Linked DNA regions of Homo sapiens: region 2 is linked to region 1. The links come from fine-mapping of genetic effects on gene expression. A gene starts in region 1. The other region holds a variant in brackets. All regions are shown on one strand. Distances are between the middles of the regions. Region 1 holds the start of LGALS3BP (galectin 3 binding protein). Region 2 overlaps C1QTNF1 (C1q and TNF related 1).

Region 1 (5,367 bases):
CAAAACCAGGAGCCAGTTACTGATTGTTGAGATAGCATGGATGGATCTCAGAAGCACTGTGGTAAGTAAAAGAAGCCACATGCAAAATATTAAATACTGTATGATTCCATTTAGAGGGAATTCTAGGGTCCAGGAGTGGTGCCTCATGCCTGTAATCCCAGCACTTTGGGAGGCAGAGGCAGGCGGATCACCTGAGTTCAGGGGTTCGAGGCCAGCCTGGCCAATGTGGAGAAACCCCTTCTCTACTAAAAATACAAAAATTAGCTGGGCGTGGTGGTGGGCGCACCTGTAATCCCAGCTACTCGGGAGGCCGAGGCAGGAGAATCACTTGGACCTGAGAGGCAGAGATTGCAGTGAGCCGAGATTGTTCCACTGCACTCCAGCCTGGGCAATGGAGGGAGACTGTGTCTTAAAAAAGAAGACAAAATAGAGGGAATTCTAGGAAAGGCAACCAGCAGTGGCAGAAGCTGAGAGGTGGTTGCTGGGAAGGGGCTGGGGGGAGGGGTGGCTGCAGAGGGGCATAAGAGAATTCTTAGGGGTGATTGAAACGCCCTAGGTAATGATTGTTGTCATGATACCATCGCTACACATTTGCCAAAACTTTGCACGTAAATTATATGCCAAGAAAGCCAATTTTTAAAAAGAAGGAAAGGATGGGTTTGAAACCCCAGTTCTTCCCCTACCAGCTGCACAACTTTAGCCGATTACGTCGCCTCACTGAGCCTCTGTTTTCTCATCTGTAACAGGGAATATAAGAGCAGCTGCTTCCCATCATGGCTGGAAGTATTAAATGCATTCATTTGTGGCAAGGCTTATAGTAATGCCTGGCGAAATCCATATTAGCTATTATAGGGAGCGTTCCTCAATTTGCGGAGAGGTTTGGGGTAGAGGCACAAAAGATGACCTTACAGGCCAGTTAACCATTCTCATCTCTGAAATGCCCCGCACTTTCCCTACCATGTCTTGGGAGCGGCTTCCTGATGACAGCAGTTCTGTCCACACGAATCTGAGGCTTTCACCCAGCTGTCTTCTCAGAGCCGAGCCGCTGCCCCTTCCCCTGCCTGTCCCCTGTCAGCGCTTCCCTCCACCCCATGGTCATCGCACACCGGAAAGGCCTTGCGAGCCCCAGGGGAGCAGATGTTGGTGCTCCGATTCCACGAGGAGGCCTCTGGGTTTTCCATTTTACCTGCCTGGATGGCTTAGGACTTTCCCGGACTCTGGGGCTAAAGATTCGGCACCTGAGTTTTAAAACCTTTCCCAGCACTTCCCAGAGATGCCCTCCCGTCCTCTGCACTCCTGTCCTTCCCTGGCCACTTGGGCAGAAGTCATTAGCACTGCTGAGAAGGGATGATGCTGGGGTTTCTGTGCACTCAGGCCCTTAATCCAGATGAGATTTTTTTAAACTCCCCACAGCCAGTTCTATTTCCAGCTGCACCTGCCCCTGGATCTTCACAGTTCCTCTGGAGGGGATTAGGCAAACCGTGCAGCTGCCTAAAACCTCACACCTTGAAGGAAATAGTCATTGAATGTCTGACCTCTGGGCTGGCTGTCTCGGACTCTAAGCTGCCAGGGAACCAGGGCCTTCCACCCAGTGGGACTGCCTGGGGGCTTTTAAATGCCCCTGCCTGTCCCCTACTCCCAGAGATGGTGACTTCCTGGGTCTAGGCATTAGGAGTTTGTAAAACTCCCTGATGATTCTTCTGTCCAGCCCAGGCTGAGAACCACTGGTCAGAGGCCTGGGCACATCCCAAGGCTCATCCAGAACCATGGGGTGCAAGTGACAGAAACAAGAGCGGCTGCTGATTGCCTCACTGAGCGGTGAAGCCCAGCCTTGACCATGGATTAGGCCAGCTGGACCCAGGAGCTCAGGCCGGAGGATGCCTGCTTCCCTCTGCTCTGCCCCACCGGCCCCAGCAGCCTGGGCCCACATCCTCTCAGTCAGAAGCTGGCTCTCACCGGCTGGCTGGGCTCACAGCCCCACCCTGAAACCAGCAGTGTGGCCCGGGGCCCCCGCAGGGCTCAGACAGCCAGGCCTTGGGTGGTTGAAGGCCAAGAGCTGGGGGCCCTCTGGGAACCACACAGCCGGGAATGGGAGGGGGTGCTCCCCAAGGGACAGTTGAGGTGCCGGCTTTCAGTGGGAGGAAAGGGAATGGGTATGAGCTGGACAGAGCCATTATGTCACCCAGAGAGGCTCTGTCCCCCGCCCCGCTGAGGGGGAGACAGTAGGAGAGTGGCCACAGGTCCAGCAGTGGCGAGCACAGGCTCTGGGGTCAGGTGTTGGAGCAGGGTCCAGCTCCTCCACTGGCCAGCTGCATACCTGGTTCTCAGTGCCTCCCTCCCCTGGGGACAGGGGACAGTGCCATGCAACCTTGTGGGGCACAGGCCCTCTGTGTGGTCAGCATGCCAAGAGCACAGAGAGGGTGGATTTGCACATAAGCAGCCCCCTGTGTGGTGTTCACCCAGCCAGCAACGTGCTAGACCCAGGAAAAGACTCGGAGCGCTCTGTCAGAGTCCACAGCCACACCACCAGGTGCAGACTGTCTGGGCCCAGAGCCTCTGCTTCTTCCCCTCCCGTCCACCAAACGCCAGCCCCTGACCAGCCTGGCGGCCTTTCCAACTGAGTGTGGCTGTTAGTCCTCTTGCAGGCCTTGCTCCAGCCAGACTCCCACCTTGGGCCTCTGCCAGCCTGGCACTGATAGCCACAGGCAGAGCTGAGACAAAAGAGAGGGGCCCTGGGGAGTATCAGCAGCAGCCAATCCCGGAAGACATCTATGTCAGGTGGTTTCTGGAAATCGAAAGTAGACTCTTTTCTGAAGCATTTCCTGGGATCAGCCTGACCACGCTCCATACTGGGAGAGGCTTCTGGGTCAAAGGACCAGTCTGCAGAGGGATCCTGTGGCTGGAAGCGAGGAGGCTCCACACGGCCGTTGCAGCTACCGCAGCCAGGTAAGCTCCTGCCTCTAGCTCTCAGGTGGGCACCCCTCTCAGTCTCTCTCTCTTTTTTATTTTTATTTTTTTTGAGACAGGGTCTCACTCTGTCACCCAGGCTGGAGTACAGTGATGCAATGTCCGCTCACTGCAGCCTCTGCCTCCTGGGTTCAAACGATTCTCCTGCCTCGGCCTCCCAAGTAGCTGGGATTACAGGCGCGTGCCACCACGCCCAGCTAATTTTTGTATTTTTAGTAGAGACAGGGTTTCGCCATCTTGGCCAGGCTGGTCTCAAACTCCTGACCTCTGGTGATCCACCCGCCTCGGCCTCCCAAAGTGTAGGGATTACAGGTGTGAGCCACCGCGCCCGGCCAGGGCACCCCTCTCTCTACACAGGCAAGTGGGGGTCATGCCTCCCTGTTTGCACATAGGCCTGGAGCTGGGGATCCAGGGCTCCTGAGTCCAGCAACAATCATTGCTGCTCCCAGGCCCACAGGGCCTCTGTGTACAGTTGGGCAGATTACTCACTGCACAAGGATACCAGCCAAAGGGCAAGTGGGTTAGAATTCAGCTTGGCCCTCTCTCAGACCTGTGCATTTGGCCTAGGCCTGCACCCACTCCAAGGAAGAGCACCTTTTTTTCTGATTTGCACGAAGGGGCCAACACAGGCAGCCGGGTCTCAACTGTATGAAGGAATCAGGCAAAAATAGCCGCTGCCACACAAAGGGCAGCGACGCCACCTGCCAGGTGCTTCGTTGCCCCCCCCCCTTTTTTTTTTGAGACAGAGTCTTGCTCTGTCACCCAGGCTGGAGTGCAGCGGCTCACTACAATCTCTGCCTGCCGGATTCAAGCAATTCTGTTGCCTCAGCCTCCTGAGTAGCTGGGACTACAGGTGCACACCACCATGCCCAGCTTATTATTATTATTATTTTGTATTTTTAGTAGAGCCGGGGTTTCACCATGTTGGCCAGGCTGGTCTTGAACTCCTGACCTCAAGTGATCCACCTGCCCCAGCCTCCCAAAGTTCTGGGATTACAGGCGTGAGCCATCGCGCCTGGCCAGTTGGCCATTTTTCCAAGGCCCTGAGTTACTCTCCCAGGACGGACAAACCTAGTGGCTGCAGCAGAGTGAAGTGGCTGGGGGCAGAAGTGGAGAGGGCGTCCACCCATACCGGCGTGCCTGGGACTGAGGGGTTTCCCAGGACACAGGGAAACTTCAGTGCTAAAACCAGCACAGTCCCCAGCACACAGGACAGGCGGTCACACCCTGGCCCCTTTAGCCATCTACTGACATTGACACAGGGAGGAGAGGTGGGCTCCCCCGAGCAGACCCCCTGCCTGTGGCTCACTGACTGTGGATGTGGAGCCCATTTGCCTCTCTGGGTGTCAGCTCATTCACTTGTAAGGTGAGGTGTAACTAAGGTGGTTCTCAGGGTCACGGTAAGGCCTCCAGTGGTGCCCGGGGAGCCCCGACAAGGGGTGGCTGCACAGTGCCAGCGAGCACGAGTCCCAGAGCAAAGCTGCTCACCAGCCAGTGCACCCAGCTCCCAGGGCGCTTGTTCATGCAGACTCCCATGCAGAGGGGCTAGGGCAAGGCCAGCCATGACTGCATTTCCGACAAGCTCTGGGGATGCCATTGCAGCCGTCCACCAGGCCCCCTCCAAGCAGCCTCAAGGTCACCAGGCCCAGACTCCCAGCCGGTGCCCACAGCAGTGCCACCCAGAGGCCTGCCCCAGGCTTGCTGAACTGAGGGGACAGTGTCAGGTATCACAGGATTCTTACCGAGCCAGAGAAACCATAACTGTCTCTCCATTGGCAGGGTGTGGGGGAGGGAGGCAGACGAAGACAAAAGCGTGGAAATTACACGGAGGCAAGAACACCAGGCCAGAAGGTGGAGACCCGGACCTCCCCAGTCCTGGCCTGAGTGTCAGTGTCTTGGGGATACTTCAGCATTTCCTCCCTGTTCTTCCCCCAGCCTGGCCCACCCTGGGCTGCAGCCCTGACCCTTTTCATCTATCTTCCCCATCGGAACACCACGGAGCCCCGATATATCTCCCTGCCACTTATCTCTGTCACCCCTCGCCCGGATTCTGTGCCCTCTCCTGACGAGTCCCCTCCCATCCACTCTCCAGGCTGCAGCCTCGTCTCTGCCTGCTGAGACCCTCTGGGACAGTCCCTGCAGGGGTCTGTTGCCTGAAGCTTAAGGCCGAGATCTTAACCAGGCTCACCCGGCCTCCCGACCTGGGCCCACGCCTGTGGCCTCCTCCATCTCCCCGCCCATGCCCGTGTGGCAGCCTTGCCCGGGGCCTGGTTTTTTGAGATGAGCTCACTTGCCTCTAGTCACCAATTCTTGCTGCCCTTACTGCCAGGGGGTGCCCCCAGCCCACGCTTCATCTAGCCAAGTGTTACACATCCTTCCAGGACCACACTGCAGACCAGG
Region 2 (5,367 bases), 61 kb before region 1:
CAGGGGCCCCAAGGCCCAGGCTCAGCCTGGCCAGAGCCAGAGCTCCTGCTATTACACCCTCGTGGCCCCTCACCTCTCGGCATGGTCCGGAGGCGACGGCAGCTCCTCAGTCCCCTCCCACTCCTGCTGTTCCCCCTGGACATGGGGCACACGACTCAGGACCAGGCCAGAGGCAAAGGCAAGGAGCAGGCAGTACGCCAGCAAGAGTCCCTGTCCACGGGAGCCCATCTTCCTGCCGGGCCCTGGTGGGAAAGAAACACACAGGGAAGGCACCGAGTTAGGAAGGAGCTGCACAGAGAAACAGCCTGAAAATTGGGGAGAGAAACAGCCTGGAAATCGGAGGTGCTTCCCCAGCCTCACGCCACTGGGAAATGCTGCAGTTACACAGCTTCTGGGAGGACAATCACTCTCACACACCCATGCATGCATACACGCACTCACGACGCACTCACGTGCACACACGCACATGCACACACATTCACATACATGCAACCCCCACACATGCACACACTCAACACACATGCAATCCACACATGCACACACAGTCACATACACTCACATGCAACCCACACATTCACATGCACCCAACACACATGCAATCCACACACATGTAATCCACACACATGTACACACAATACACATGCACAGTCTCAACAATGAAACCTACACACATGCATACATATACCCACATCACATGCACACTCATGCAATCCACGCACCCATATGCACACTCTTAACACACATGGAATCCACACGCTCACATGCACACAGTCAACACACATACACTCACACTCACATGCACATACATGCACATACACAGTCCACACACATGCACTCACACATGCAATCCACATGCTCACATGCACTCAACACACATGCACAACTCACATGCACACATACCCAAATCACATGCACACTCTCAACACACATGCACACACATGCATACATATACCCATATCACATGCACACAGATTCACACACACATGCAATCCACACACATGCACACTTTTACATGCACTCACACACATATACCATCACATGCACTCACATGCAATCCAACATGCACACACATTCACATACATGCAATCCATGCACACATGCACACACATACACACATGCAACCCACACACACATGCAACCCACACATGCACACACATTCATATACATGCAATCCACACACATGCACATTCGCATACATGCAATCCACACATGCACACTTTCAACACACGTGCACACATTAACATGCACACATATACCCACATCACATGCACACTCACGTGCACGCCCGCATACTCTCAACACATTCACATGCATGCACATCCACTCATGCACACATGCGCTCACATGTACACACACCTTCACATGTGCGCACACACTCTGCCCCCAGAGCCTCAGCCAGTCAGGCTGGTGTTGAGGGGTTGCTGAGCAAGGTGCTGTCTCTGCCCACCCAGCCTCTCGGGAAGGAGAGTCCATCAGCCGCTGGCCCCACAGACAATTGTATACCACCCCTCTTAGGACAGTAAGAAAAATCCCAAGCAAGCTTTGAATGATCATCATCCCTTAACTCAAAGCAAAGCTGGCTCAATGACCAGGTCCTTCACCGGTGGGTAGGTGGGTAGGAAGGTGGCTGCAAGCTGCTTTCTGGCCACCAGGCGGCGCATCAGCAGGTGTCCTTGGCATCTACTTTAGGGATGTGCCAAGCCCAGCCCCACAGAGCAGTCATCCTTCCAGGAAGCCAACCCCACGTCTCACTCCCAGAGCTTTTGGCAAAAGCTTGGGGCAGGACCCCCTCCATCCAGTATTGGGACAGTCCTTCTAGAAAGGGGTGCTCACGGAGGTGGGGAGTCCAGGGAGCCCGCGAGGGGCGGCACTTGGGCCCACATTAGGCGAACGCCCACCTGCCACCCTGTGAGCGGCTTGCTCCCCTCGCCCAGGAATCTGGCATCAGGAGTCGCAGGCCCAGCCGTTTCAGGTGGGCCGAAAACCTCCCCACCGAGGGGCACAGCGACTGTGGTCAACTCTAACCCCTCTTTGTTCACCAAAATGTAAAACTCGAAATGTCGCAGGCCCCGTGGGAACACCTCATTCAACACACAGCCGCCCAGTGAGAAGGTGGGTGAGAAGCGTCCCTCACTCCTGGCTGCCAGGCCGGCGTGGACTCCAGCTCTTTCTTGAGAGGCAAACAGTGAAAGCAAGGGCTCATCTCCAAAGGCCCTGGGCCAGACTCTTTCTCCTCTAACTCCTCTTATGTCTAAGGAAAGTTAAAATCCTGACAGATTTCTTTCTCTGCCCATATTACACACCAAGATGACCGCGACGTCTTACTCATCTTGGGAAGCCGGGAATTTCTTCCACACACACCGTCGCTCGGGGGCTTTGGAGCCTCTGCGGGGGATGTCTGTAGCGGGCTTTTTTTTTTTTTTTTTGAGATGGAGTCTTGCTCTGTCACCCAGGCTGGAGTGCAGCAGTGTGATCTCGGCTCACTCCGCCTCCTAGGTTCAAGTGATTCTCCTGCCTCAGCCTCCCAAGCAGCTGGGATTACAAGCATGCGCCACCACGCCCAGCTAATTTTTGTATTTTTAGTAGAGACGGGGTTTCACCACGTTGGCCAGGCTGGTCTGGAACTTCTGACCTCAAGTGATCCACCCACCTCGGCCTCCCGAGGTGCTGGGATTCCAGGCGTGAGCCACGGCCCAGGACTTTAGTGGGCTCTTGAGTGAAGTCTGAAGGGCTCCCC[G/A]CAGAGCCCTCACGCCAAGTCAACATTGCAGGGGAAGATCTGGAGTCCAGGGCTCTCCCGATAGAGCCTCCGAGGTGACAGTGAGGAGAGCAAGGCTGGCCCCCCCGAACCTCTCTCCTCCCCTGTCACACATACCTACACCCAGTCTTCACCACCTTGCATGGCCCACGCCCCATCTCTGCAGTGGCTTAGCTGGAGCCCCCACCTCCAAGTGTCCTACCAGCCAGCTGTCCCTCCCATGCGTCAGGGCCCAGAGACCGTCCCAATGACCAAGGAGCTGCTTAGGCCACAGCCCCCACCCAGAATCTCTGATACCTCCCACCACTTGCCAAAAAAAGGGTGTATGTGCACATGGTAATTTATAAAATACACATCTAAGTTCTCTCTCCAGCTATCCGTCTAGTTAGGTTTGAGAACATTTCCTCATTAATAATTTTTATCCCATCACGGATGGCCCCACAATCCTCTAGGGAGACAATATACATTCATGACTGTAGCAGATATGTAAATGAGAAAACAGAGACTTGGAGAAGCTAATTAGCCTAAAATTCTGATTTTTTTTTTTGACAGGATCTCACTCTGTGAGTGAGTGCAGTGGTGCAATCTCGGCTCACTGCAGCCTCTGCCTCCTGGACTTGAGCCATCCTCCCACCTCAGCCTCACAAGTAGAAGGGACTGCAGGTATGCACTACCACACCCAGCTAATTTTTTTTTTTTTTTTTTTTTTTTGTAGAGACAAATTTTCACCATGTTGCCCAGGCTGGTCTCAAACTCCCGGGCTCAAGTGATCTGCCCACCTCAGCCTCCCAAAGTGCTGGGATTACAGGCGTGATCCTCCACGCCGGGCCAAGACTGATTTTTGAGCAGGGGGGCTGCATTTGGACTCAGACAGGCTGACAACAGATGACAATAAAATCCTGCCCGCCTTGTCTTCAACACCCAACTCAAGGTCTCATAGTCTTCCTGAAGCCTTCCCAGGCCCCTCAACTGGGAAAAATTCTCCATCCTCGGTCTTAGTTTTCTTTTTTGATACAGGGTCTCACTCTGCCTCCCTGTAGCCTCAACCCTCCCGGCTCAGGCCATCTGCCCACCTCAACCTCTCAAGCAGCTGGGACTACAGGCATGCGCCACCACGCCCAGCTAAATTTTTTTGTTGTTTTTTCGTAAAGACACGGTTTCACCGTGTTTCCCCGGCTCGTCTCAAACTCCTGAGCTCAAGCAATTCACCTGCCTTGGCCTCCCAAAGTACTGGGATTATAGGTGGGCGCCATAATTTTATTTTTCCTATTGTCTCCTACTGCAGAGAGTTTGTCTAGCCTATGAGAGTCTACTCAGCAGACCGTGGGTGACCTCCTCCAGGGCTGGGACGTCCCCTAGCCAAGCATCCTGCAGCACCCTGAATCACTGGTGCTCAGCAAATATTTGTCAGACTGAATTCTCTAAATTTGTTTATTTCTCCATTTCTGTATTTCCTCTGTTTCTCCTTGGTGCCTTAATAATTATTCTGTTTTTTCCTTTTAAGTGGCAAACTTGTACCAGTTAAAAGGAAAAGAGATTTTCCTTTCTTTAAATATTTTTTTCCTGAATCCCAAATTTTATATATACACATACACATGTTTACATATATATACATATATACATATTTACATATATATATATATACACACACACACACATATTTATTTAAGAGAGGTTGGAAAGTAACTACAAAACGCATTAAAAAGCTACCTTGGATTATTCTACTCTGTGGTTTCTCAACCCTGGCACCATTGAAGGATTGCTGGGTTTTTTTGTTTTATTTTATTTTGAGACAGAGTCTCGCTCTGTCACCCAGGCTGGAGTGAAGTGGCGCGATCTTGGCTCACTGCAACCTCCGCCTCCCAGGTTCAAGTTATTCTCCTGCCTCAGTCTCCCTAGTAACTGAGATTATATGCGTGTGCCTCCACACCCGGCTAATTTTTGTATTTTTAGTAGAGACAGGGTTTCGCCATGTTGGCCAGGCTGGTCTTGAACTACTCCTGACCTCAGGTGATCCATCTGCCTCGGCCTCCCAAAGTGCTGGGATTACGGGCGTTTGCCACCGCGCCAGCCAACCCTGGCACCATTGAGGTTTGGGCCTAGATAATCCCCTGTGGTGGGGGGCTAGCCTGTGTGCTGTAGGATGCTTAGCAGTAACCCTGGACTGTCCCCACCAGATGCCATTAGCACCACTACCTCTAGTTATGACAACAAAAAATGTCTCCAAACATGGTAATATGCCTGTTCCTCAGGGGCAAAATTGCCCCTAGCTAAGCACCAGCATTTGTTTTTATGTTGGTCTATCTCTTTCTAGTCTAGCAAAGGGATTTTCCACACCTTGGTCAGAAGAGACGGGGTCCAGGATGCAGCTGGGTTAGGAACGATGCTGTCACTGGGGTGGGGTGGGGCTGGGAAACCCCAGCAGAGAGCCCCAGGCTCAGGCTGGTAGGGACAAGGCCACTTTGGCGGTGGTGGCTCTCCTCAAAAGCCTGCTGTTCGGAGTCAGAGCAAACCCAGGTTGAAATCTTTCCTTCCTGAAAAGATCTTAAGAAGCATTTTACCAAATCCCACAGCAAAGCCAGCGTCATAACATGATGATCATTTTAGTCACT

What was found. PIP is the estimated chance that this variant, and not a neighbour inherited with it, causes the effect. A credible set is the group of variants that fine-mapping cannot tell apart.
Region 2: its variant is the best candidate, but not a certain one, in a credible set for the expression of LGALS3BP in whole blood (INTERVAL, PIP 0.57).

What each region holds. Positions count from the first base shown.
Region 1 is chr17:78,977,403-78,982,769 of GRCh38, reverse strand. It overlaps LGALS3BP (galectin 3 binding protein), which reads left to right and starts at 2,847. Exons shown (of 6, transcript NM_005567.4): 1 at 2,847-2,946. RefSeq lists an enhancer at 1,821-2,813.
Region 2 is chr17:79,038,830-79,044,196 of GRCh38, reverse strand. It overlaps C1QTNF1 (C1q and TNF related 1), which reads right to left. Exons shown (of 4, transcript NM_030968.5): 2 at 74-242. The coding sequence starts at 228. Among named protein-coding and RNA genes, the nearest start is that of C1QTNF1-AS1, 14 kb to the right of the region's middle. RefSeq lists an enhancer at 1-232. The variant G/A (reference allele first, on the strand shown) is at 2,738.